Linked DNA regions of Homo sapiens: region 2 is linked to region 1. Evidence: fine-mapped expression QTL. Tissue or cell type: whole blood. Region 1 holds a variant in brackets; the other region holds the start of a gene. All regions are shown on one strand. Distances are from middle to middle.

What was found. PIP is the estimated chance that this variant, and not a neighbour inherited with it, causes the effect.
Region 2: DUSP18 starts here. The variant in region 1 is fine-mapped to the expression of DUSP18 in whole blood (TOPMed, PIP above 0.99).

Annotation. Positions count from the first base shown.
Region 1 is chr22:30,638,422-30,644,401 of GRCh38, forward strand. The region is part of intron 1 of SLC35E4 (solute carrier family 35 member E4); the gene reads left to right. Among named protein-coding and RNA genes, the nearest start is that of SLC35E4, 5.6 kb to the left of the region's middle. The variant G/C (reference allele first, on the strand shown) is at 2,754.
Region 2 is chr22:30,665,063-30,670,546 of GRCh38, forward strand. DUSP18 (dual specificity phosphatase 18) reads right to left here and starts at 2,813. Exons shown (of 2, transcript NM_152511.5): 1 at 2,400-2,813. It also overlaps a transcript of SLC35E4 not described here. RefSeq lists an enhancer at 2,911-3,300.

The DNA of each region.
Region 1 (5,980 bases):
AACCCGGGTGGCAGAGGTTGCAGTGAGCCAAGATCGCCCCACTGCACTCCAGCCAAGGCGACAGAGTGAGACTCCATCTCAAAAAAAAAAAAAAAAAAAAAAAAATTGGGCCAGGCGCAGTGGCTCACAGCTGTAATCCCAGCACTTTGGGAGGCCGAGGCAAGTGGATCACCTGAGGTCAGGAGTTCGAGACCAGCCTGGCCAACATGGGGAAACCCTGTCTCTACTGAAAATACAAAAATTAGCTGAGCGTGATGGTGGGCGCCTGTAATCCCAGCTACTCAGGAGGCTGAGGTGAGAGAATCGCTTGAACCTGGGAGGCGGAGGTTGCAGTGAGCTGAGATCACGCTATTGCACTCCAGCCTGGGTAACAAGAGTGAAACTCTGTCTCAAAATTAGCCGGGCCAGGTGGCATGCACCTGTAATCCCAGCTACTGGGGAGGCTGAGGCATAAGAATTCCTTGAACCCGGGAGAAGGAGGTTGCAGTGAGCTGAGATTACACCACTGCACTCCAGCCTGGGCGACAGAATGAGACTCTGTCTCAAGAAAAAGAAAGAAGTTCAGCCCAGCGCAGTGGCTCACACCTGTAATCCCAGCACTTTGGGAGGCTGAGGTGTATTGGGGGAAATTCAGCCAGATATCGGGCGAAATTCACCCCTGATATTTCACGTAGGTTCTTTTCTGTATTACCTAAGTGTCAGCTGGTCTGAGAAATAAAGGGACAGAGTACAAAAGGGAGAAATTTTAAAGCTGGGTGTCCGGGGGAGACATCATATGTCGGCAGGTTCCGTGATGCCCCCTGAGCCATAAAACCAGCAAGTTTTGATTAGTGATTTTCAAAAGGGGAGGGAGTGTACCAATAGGATGTGGGTCACAGAGACCACGTGCTTCACAAGGTAATAGAATATCACAAGGCAAATGGAGGCAGGGCCAGATCACAGGACCATAGGACCGGGGTGAAATTAAAATTGCTAATGAAGTTTCGGGCACGCATTGTCATTGATAACATCTTATCAAGAGACAGGGTTTGAGAGCAGACAACCAGTCTGACCAAAATTTATTAGGCGGGAATTTCCTCGTCCTAATAAGCCTGGGAGCGCTATGGGAGACTGGGGCTTATTTCATCCCTACAGCTTCGACCATAAAAGATGGCCGCCCCCCAGAAGCAGCCATTTTAGAGGCCTACCCTCAGGGACGCATTCTCTTTCTCAAGGATGTCCCTTGCTGAGAAAAAGAATTCAGCAACATTTCTCCCATTTGCTTTTGAAAGAAGAGAAATATGGCTCTGTTCCACCCGGCTCACCGGCAGTCAGAGTTTAAGATTATCTCTCTTGTTCCCTGAACATTGCTGTTATCCTGTTCTTTCAAGGTGCCCAGATTTCATATTGTTCAAACACACATGCTCTACAATTTGTGCAGTTAACGCAATCATCACAGGGTCCTGAGGCGACATACAGCCTCCTCAGCTTACGAAGATGATGGGATTAAGAGATTAAAGATAGGCATAGGAAATCACAAGGGTATTGGTTGGAGAAGTGATAAGTGTCCATGAAATCTTCACAATTTATGTTCAGAGATTGCAGTAAAGACAGGCGTAAGAAATTACAAAAGTATTAATTTGGGAAACTAATAAATGTCCATGAAATCTTCACAATCCACGTTCTTCTGCAATGGCTTCAGCTGGTCCCTCCGTTTGGGGTCCCTGACTTCCCGCAACAGAGGTGGGAGGATCACGAGGTCAGGAGATCAAGACCATCCTGGCCAACGTGGTGAAACCCTGTCTACTAAAATTACAAAAATTAGCTGGGCGTGGTGGCGCCTGCCTGTAATCCCCCCTACTCGGGAACCTGAGGCAGGAGAATCACTTGAACCCAGGAGGCAGAGGTTGCAGTGAGCCGAGATCACGCCACTGCACTCCAGCCTAGGGACAGAGCTAGACTCCATCTCAAAAAAAAAAAAAAAAAGAAGAAAGAAAGAAAGAAGTTCATGATTTGCACAGAGGTCACGGGGTCCCTAATGATGTGAAGCATGGTCTATGTGACTCCAGATGCTGGCTCTGATGAAAGAGGGCAGCAGGGCTCTGGGCAGTTTAGGGCCGAGGCTCCAGGCCCAGACCCACTAGATCATTCTGCCTGAGGGCGAAGGCTGGCTTCCTGCCTTTCCTACTGAGGGGCATCTGAGTCGCAGCCTCTATCCTCTCTCTGCCTCAACCCAAGGAGACATAGGGGAGGCCAGGGTGCCCACTCAGGGTGGGGAGGCCTGGGTTCCAGCCATACCTTTGCTCATATTTGCTGGGCAACCTTGGGCATATTGGGATTTTATCTGGGCCTCAGTTTCCTCATCTGTCAGTGGAGGAGAGTTGGAGTTGATGGAGTCCAAGGGGCCTCTTGCTCTCCCTTCGCCCTGAGATCCTGTGACCCAGGCCTGGGAGAAGGAAGTGGGCACACCAAGAGTGCTGGGCTGGGATTGATGACAGCCCACAGCCAGGGAAGATTGAAGTCAGAGTTCAGCCCTGCCCTGGCGTATTCAGAGCTGACACAGAGGCCCTATCTCTATCCTCCCTGGCTCCAAGGCAGGGTCAAAACCCAGTTCTATTTTTTGCCCTCAGGTTACATGAGAGCTAGAGGCTGAGCACAGGCATGAGCTCTGGGCATGAGTCTGCACTGGGAAACCTGACCTGTGGGCACCCCTGTGCAGGCCACAGGGCTGTGAAGGTCCTAACCTCAAGGCCCATGCTGCCCCTGCTGAGAAA[G/C]AGTCAGTGCTTCTCACACTGGGACCCAGGCAGCCCCAGCCTGCAGGAGGGGCAATGGCCGGCCAGGCCTCAGGCACTTGGGCATGGAGTGGCATGTGCCTGGCATCGGGCTGCATCTTGACTCCTGCCAGCTCCCTCCTTCCCTCCCTCCCTAGTCTTAACTCCTGACCCCTGGGAGGTTGAGTCCTTGCTCTGGGCTCCTGCGGTATCCTCTGCTCCCCCTATCATGGTTCCAAATGCCATGTATGATCACCACCTGGTTACCTGTCTGCTGCCTGCCAGACAGATTTGGGGCAATTCTATGTTCCTGGAACCTAGCCCTGGGGCCTTGCAGAGGATACATAATTTGTAAATTATAATTTTTAAATTTTATTTTATTATTTTTTTTTTTGAGACAATCTCTCTCTGTCGCCCAGGCTGGAATGCAGCAGTGCAATCTCAGCTCATTGCAACCTCTGCCTCCTGGTTTCAAGCAATTCTTGTGCCTCAGCCTCCTGAGTAGCTGGGACTACAGGCTCATGCCACCGTCCTGGCTAATTTTTAATTTTTTTTTTTTTTTTTTTTTTTTTTTAGAAACAGGCTCACTATGTTGCCCAGGCTGGTCTCAAACCCCTGGCCTCAAGTGATCTTCCCTCCGGGCCTCCCAAAGTGCTGGAATTACAGGTGTGAGCCAACATGCCGACAGATTTACTGATGGCTCTGACAGGCGAGCTGATCTCATAGACTGGTTGGGCTGCCTGATTCAGGAGGGAGTTTAGGGGGCTAGAGGCCCCACTAACAGAGATAGGAGCCCTGCAGAGATGGGGAGGAACAGACTTGAGCCAGGGCCTGAGATAGGCTTTTTTTGCTTGTTTGTTTGTTTGTTTATGAGAGGGTCTTGCTCTGTCATCCAGGCTGGAGTGCAGTGGCTCACTGCGGCCTCAATTTCCCAGGCTCGGGCAATCCTCCCACCTCAGCCTCCCGAGTAGCTAGGACTATAGGCGTGCCTCCATGCCCAGCTAATTTTTGTATTTTTTGTAGAAATGGGGTTTCATCATGTTGCCCAGGCTGGTCTCCAACTCCTAGACTCAAGTGATTTACCCACCTCGGCCTAAAGTGCTGGGATTACGGGCATGAGCCACCACACCCAGCCTGAGATAGGTTTTGAACAAAAGGTTTCTACTGCAGGAGGCTCCAGGAGAGGCACCAGGGCCAGATTCAGACGTGAGTGTACGTGGCTGATGCCAGCTCCATTCCTGAGAGCAGAGTTTGTGGGAGCAGAGGGCAAGTATCCAGAAAGAAGGCTGGGCATGGTGGCTCACGCCTGTAATCCCAGCACTTTGGGAAGCCAAGGCAGGCAGCTCACTTGAGGTCAGGAGTTCGAGACCAGCCTGGCCAGCATGGTGAATCCCCGTCTCTACTAAAAATACAAAAAAAATTAGCTGGGCATGCTGGTGCATGCCTGTCATCCCAGCTACTCGGGAGGCTGAGGTAGGAGAATCTCTTGAACCAGGGAGGCGGAGGTTGCAGTGAGCCGAGATATCACACCATTGCACTCTAGCCTGGGCAACATCTCAAAAAAAAAAAAAAAAAAGGCCAGGCACGGTGGTTCACACCTGTAATCCCAGCACTTTGGGAGGCCAAGGTGGGTGGATCATGAGGTCAGGAGATTGAGACCATCCTGGCTAACACAGTGAAACCCCGTCTCTACTAAAAAATACAAAAAAATAGCCAGGTGTGGTGGTGGGCACCTGTAGTCCCAGCTAGTCGGGAGGCTGAGGCAGGAGAATGGCGTGAACCCGGGAGGCGGAGCTTGCAGTGAGCCCAGATAGCGCTACTACACTCCAGCCTGGGCGACAGAGTGAGACTCCGTCTCAAAAAAAAAAAAAAAAAAGTATCCAGAAAGAGGAGAGCCCAGGCAGCTGTTGGCAGGGCCAGCGACTTCCCTCCTTCTTGGGCCAGTTGTAGGCCCAGGGAGCCTGCACAAGGAGAGGGGTTATGCCATCCTCCTACCCACAGAAAGGGTGGGAAGTGGGGCGCCAGCCTGCTGAGCTTGCTCTCAGCTGGACTCCCCCGCCCGTCCGCATCACAGAGCAGGCGGACTCAACCCCTCTGAGCTCTCAGGCTGATGGGGGAGATGCACTCAGATATAGAGATCATGATGGCAGAAAAGAAGTTCTAGAGTCAAAGTGGTCACACGTGTTGGGGAGCGGTTGCTTCTTCCTGGGGAGCGCTGAGAAGGCTATCTAGGGGAAGAGACATGCAATGATGATGACAATAATGTAACCATGAGAGCAAACATTTGTTGGGGCCTCCCTAGGTGCCCACACCATGCCCAGCTCTTCATACTGAAGGAGGAGGAAAGGGTGATCTGGGAATGGGAAACAGGCCGTGCCAGGGCACAGGGTGTCAGCCAGCAGGAGCAGGGTGTGGGGATCATGCCAGCTGCCGGGGTGAGCCGGCATCAAGGACATCACACAGGGCATCAGGCCCTGTGTTCAGCACCTCACATGTGAGGGGGCTGTTGCTACCCGAGCCACACGACTTAAGGAGACTGAGGCGTGGAGAGAGGGAGACAGTATCACACAGCCCGTGAAAGAGCAAAAGGGCCAAGCCAATAGCAAGCAGACAGGGTTTAGAGAAGGGTCAGCTGTTGTCTGCATGTGGCAGAAACTTGGGCATGTTCCAATAGAAGGAGAGGTGGCAATGAGGCAGGACAAACAGGCTGACATTTTGGGGTCCCCAGGTAGAAGCCAGTCACCGCCTCTGACAGCGAATGGCTGCCCTTTCCCTGGGCTGCAGGGAGGGGAGGTGGAGGATTGGGTGGGATGTACAATAGGTGTGAGGAGATGGGTGGGAAGTTTAGGACCTTCCTGCCTGGCTGCCTTGCAGAGGGTGAAATTTACCAAAGGTGAAGTTCACCTGAAAACCCAACCGCCTTCTTGTGATGGGACGTTTAATGTGCAAGCCACAGGTAGCTCATAACACTGTTAACTTTCGAGCCTGCGAGCAGGAGGCATTCTGATTATCTGTTCATTTCTAGAAACGCTTGAGCCAGAGGGACTGTTTGTTGCCTAGAGAACAAAGCTAAAACATCGGAATGAAATTGAGAGAGAAATAAAATTTCCTATTCTAAGCATAGCCTATGAGTAAGCATCTCTGTGGCTTTTTGGAAAGTGTGTGTCAGAAAATGCATAGAGGCTCACAGAGGCCTGGGAGGGGACCTGTGTCGACTACTCATCTCTCTC
Region 2 (5,484 bases), 26 kb after region 1:
TGGGTGCCCAGAGCATTCATTAGACTCTCGGACCCTCACTTTCTCAGTCTTAAACAAAGCTGCAAAAACCAGGACATCTTTATACATTCCGCTGAAATAGGGACATTTGGATTTAGATCACACCTTTCAAGGCCAAGTGGCAGTCTTCACCAGGCACGAGAAATGAGGAGCCAAAGTTTTGTTTCCCTGCTTAATATATTTCAGTGGCTATCCACTGTGAGGATAAGATGGAGCCACTTAGTTTGGCTGTCAAGGCCATTTGTGACCTGGCTCCTGCCTGTCTCTCCAGCCTCTTATTAGGCTTCTCCATGCTCTGAAGGGCCTCAGGTGAACCGAGCCACTTACAGTTCCTTAGGGACAACCTGTCCTCTCCAGCCAGTGGCCTTTGCCCCTGCTGATCTCTCAGTCTCTTTCCTTATGAACCCATCAGATCCTGATCTGGTCCATTCAGCAGAGGACTGCAGAAGTCTGAGGAGCCTTAAGATATCAACTTAAAGGTAACTGTTTTAAGGGAAATCTCCTTAGATCACACCCCTCCCTCACGTTTGACCAACTCTGCTCCAGGCTTTCTTAGCCCTATGTTCTCTCCTTCCTAACACTTACTGAAGACGTAGTTTTGCTCCGATCTGTCTGATTATTTGATTAATGTCTGTCTCCCCAAGAGACTGTGAGCCCTTTAGGGATATGATGGTGTCTGTCTTCACTCCCACTCTATCACCAACTAGTGCCAAGCGCTGTGTCCCCACAAGTAGGTGCTTGATAAATATTTGTTGAATGAAGAAATGACTCCCAACAGCTATGACTCTGCCTTCTGAGAGGTTTTCTGGAAAGAATGAGTTCTCTGGCAGCGTGTCTCCAGAATTCCAGGGAGGGGCTGGGTGGGGATGGGGGTGGTTCTGAGGCTACTAAAGAGAAAGACCAAAGGTTGTATAGGCAAATCCTACCTGCCAATGCCCCAGACTCAAATGCATCAGGCTCATTCCCGGAAGGACAGAGAGGGCTGGCTTGCTACAGAGGTGATATGAAGGGCAAAGAAAAAGCCTCCTGAACCCAGATGGAAGTCTAAATGCTAAGGAATGTTCTGGATCCTCGTCATCAGAAAATCCATAGAGAAGTGAACTGATGTCCCCCCAAACCAGTGCCCAGTGGGTAACGGGAATAGAGGAATGTGCTGTTCATTATAGCCACTAAAAGTCTGCAGAAGTGACAATGCTCTTGCAGGTGAGGGTAGTGATGCGAGGAGTCATTTTCATGCTAGTTAAGAAATATCTATCAGGGCTGGGCACGGTGGCTTAAGCCTATAATCCCAGCACTTTGGAAGGCCGAGGCGGGCAGATCACCTGAGGTCAGGAGTTCAAGACCAGCCTGACCAACATGGTGAAACCCCCGTCTCTACTAAAAATACAAAAATTAGCCAGGCGTGGTGGCATGGGCCTGTAGTCCCAGCTACTCAGGAGGCTGAGACGGGAGAATTGCTTGAACCCGGGAGGCGGAGGCTGCAGTGAGCCAAGATCGTGCCACTGCACTCCAGCCTGGGAGACAGCGTGAGACTCCATCTCAAAAAAAAAAAAAAAAAAAAAAAAAGCAATCTCTATCAGGCACTGTATTAGGTGTTGGAGATACTGAAATGTACAAGACAGGCATGGCCCCTTTTCTCAGGGAGCTCAAAGACTAGTGGGAGAAACAGATAGTAAACAGGCAATTACAGGCAGACAGAGCTTGAAAATAGGATAACAGTACCTACCTTAAAAGGATGTTGTGAAATTAAACGAGATAATCCACGTAAAGAGTTTTCTCAGGGCTTGGCATAGAGTAAGCCCTCTCAAAATGATAACTATTTTTCTCGCTTCTGATAGGGAAGTTAAAATGCAGGGCTCTGTGAAAGGGAAGTGTAAAAAAGATTTCTTCCAGGTCGGAGCCTAGGGAGTCGCAAAGACCACCTGAAGAAATCACAAAAGATCTAAAGAACGTTTAGCTTGAGAGGGAGGAGGAGAAAAAAATAGCAACTCGGTAGCAGTTCAGCTTCACCACTTTACAGCCTATGAAGTATTTGGCTTCCCTCATCTGGTTCGATCTTCAAAGCAACCTAATCAGACCGGCGTCTAGAGTTAATATTTCCATTTTACAAAAGAGGAAAGTGAGACACAGCGCGGAAAAGGACTTGTTCAGAACGAGTCATAAAGCAAAGAAGCCGACCTTTATGGTCCATTATGTGTGGGAAAAATGAACAAACACCGCGGGGCGTTCGTGAAATACTAAGTTATAAACATGGAACAAAGTCCAAGAGTTAACGAGAGCGAAGCATCACTTCTAGGGGTGGGCCGGGTAGGTTTCCTAGGGGAGCTGGCATTGGAATAGGCTTCTTCGCCTGCTTAGTGTCAGGACCCCCAGGGTTTTACCTCTCTCCTTCAGGCGGGTGGGCGGGTTCGCTCAGGAAGTAGCCGCTTGGGGAAGCCTTAGGCAAGGTTCTTCGGGAGAGAGACCCGTCATGATCCCGCAGCCTCAATCCCCGCTGGCCTAACGCTTTGGTTTCCATAGCAATGGGCTCGTCGCAGAAAGGAATAGCCTGTGCCGGGTCTTCAGAGAAATCCTGGCCTCGGCTCCACGCCCCTGAGCAGCCCCACCCTGGCTCAACCTGTTACCCGCCCTGCCGGCAAGCCGGGGTCACTGCAGTCCCCGTGGCGAAGCAGGGTCAGCTCAGCTCACCGCACCCCACTCCATCCAGCCCTGCCCATCTCTACGGCAACGGGCCGGGTCGCACCAGGGCTGCAGCCGAGAGACAGTCTCACCGCTTCCGTAGCCGCCCGGGCTCTGTGCGCATGTGCGACACTCCCTCCCCGGCCCCGCCCCCTTATGCGTCTCCCAGGCAACGCGCCGCGCGGGGCTCCAGGTTCCGCCCAGGGACTAACTCCAGGTCTGCGCGCGTCCAACGAGCACGGCTCTCAACCGGCCTCCTGGCGCCCAACGACCATGGCTTCCAACCGGCCTCCGTGCGCCCAACGACCATGACTCCCAACCGGCCTCCAGTTTCCAACTGTTTCTCGAACAGGGAAGCCGCCATGACACAGCTGACTACGCCCTTGGTCACAGGGGACCTGAGATCCTCCACGATTTACGGGACCGGCGCCACCTCGGGCTCGAACCACCCTCTCGATAGGGCCGCCGCTAAGTAATCGGCGTAGGGGTTCAGCCGCACATCTCCTTCCCGCGCCGCGGACCGAGCAGTCGTTGGTGCTCTTCAGGTGCGGCCTGGGTGCCCAGAGCCTTCGTTAGACTCTCGGACCCGCAAGGGAGCCCGAACTCTTTCAGACTCGCTCTCCCTCAGCCGGACCTCGGCCCTTTTTCACACCCCAGGGGAGTCTGGATTTCTCATAGTCCTGGGCACCAGCCCCTTCCCAGTCTAGCTCTTGGGACTCCCTGAAGCCGGAACTCCCTCGCCTGGACTCCCGGGAGAACCTGGAATCCCCATCTCCAGTCCACATTTTCTCAGAATCTGTCCTAGCCCTTCAGTCTCCCAGGCATGACATCGTGTGGTCCCAGCGCCCTAGGTGGTGAGCTGTGACTCTCCTTAGAGCCTGGCGAGGCCGAGGTCCTCCCCAGCTCGAACCCATCCCACACTCCCCTTCTCAGCCTCTGTGTTCCCCAGTGGTCCTGGAAAAGCCCCCAGTTCCCTCTGCCTGGCCCCAATCCTCACAAACCCAATTACCCACGCTCCTTTCCATTCCATAACCCCCATCACTGCATCCTCCAGGCTCCCATCCATGGAGGACTTGAGGTGGAAAGCAATTTGGTTCAAAATAACCATTATTTATTACTTGAAAGGGAATATTTCCAGTCGTTGCCAGCCTCCTCCCCTTCTAGTATTGGTAAATTTTTTGCACCACTGAGTGGGTGAAGAGTTTTATGCGTCTTTAAATGTTTTAAGGATTTTTTTAAAAAAACAAAAAACTCTCAGGATTTGGGGGACTTTTGTGTTTGAGCATCTTGATCTCTAAACCAGCTTTTTCCATCACCTCACACCTAGGCTATGCATAGAGGTCAGAAAAATGTAAATGAGAGATTGAGAAGTTGGATTGTTCATACTAGTTTGTAAATATGAAAACATTCACAACACTCCAGTTCCAAATAGGCTGAAAATGCATTAGAAAAACTAGTCCTTCAATATTTTTTATCCTTCTACAGTTGTCTTTTTTGACCCAATTATAAAAGTAGTGTACACTTATAGAAAAATGAGGACAGGCATGGTGGCTCACGCTTGTATTCCCACCACTTCACTTTGAAACGCTGAGGCAGTTGGATCACCTGAGCTCAGGAGTTCGAGACCAGCCTGGGCAACAGGGTGAAACCCCATCTCTACCAAAAATACAAAAAATTAGCCGGGCTTGGTGGCTCACCTGTGGTCCCAGTTACTCAGGAGGCTGAGGTGGGAGGATCACTTGAGCCTGGGATGTGGAGGTTGCAGTGAGCTGAGATTGTGCCACTACTCTCCAACCTGGGGGACAGAGTGAGACCCCGTCTCGAAGAAATAAAAAGAAGACAAGACAGGCCAGCAGCATAAGTGGCTAGGGACAATCACTGTTAACATTTTGGTGTATTTTGATCAGAATCCATTCATATATATATATATATATATATATATATATGTTACAACATGCTTATACTTAAAAAAGATACATCACAAAAGTTCACTTTTTAGTAACCTGCTTTTTTCTCCCATCTAATATACCACCCGTCTATGTTTCATACACAATTACATGTATTTTATTTTATGACATACCAAAATTTATTCAATTGCTTCCATACTGTAGATTTTGTTTCCGCATTTTAGAAAGAAAATATGAACAATTTTTTTTTTGAGACAGAGTCTAGCTCTGTGGCCCAGGCCCGAGTGCAGTGGCACAGTCTTGGCTCACTGCAACCTCTGCCTCCTGGGTTCCAGTGATTCTCCTGCCTTAGCCTCCTGATTAGCTGGGATTACAGGTGCTCACCACTACACCCGGCTAATTTTTGTATTTTTAGTAGAGATGGGGTTTCACCATGTTGGCCAGGCTGGTCTCGAACTCCTGACCTCAAGTGATCTGCCCACCTTGGCCTCCCAAAGTGCTGGGATTATAGGCCTCAGCCACTGTGCCTGATCCTGAAGAATTATTTTTAAATGGGCAAAACCATTTAAAGGTATTTATTTGTAAGACTACTTCATGGTGTAACCAAATTATCAAAAAGTGAAAATGCAGTGCTTAGAAGTATATCCACTCTTCAGCATTTCCTCATTTTGACCAGATTGTTATATTTTCACCTGGAGTACCTAGCTCCATTCTACCCCACCCCACCCCATGTTTCACCTCACCTTTCAGAGTCTCCTAAAACCCCTGTCCACCCCACACCTCCCTATTCTAAATTTTCCCCAAACCTTCTTCTGGAATTCCCCTATTAACCAGCCTAACATCTGTCCAAACTCTTACTTTTATTTCTCCCTGCTCTGAT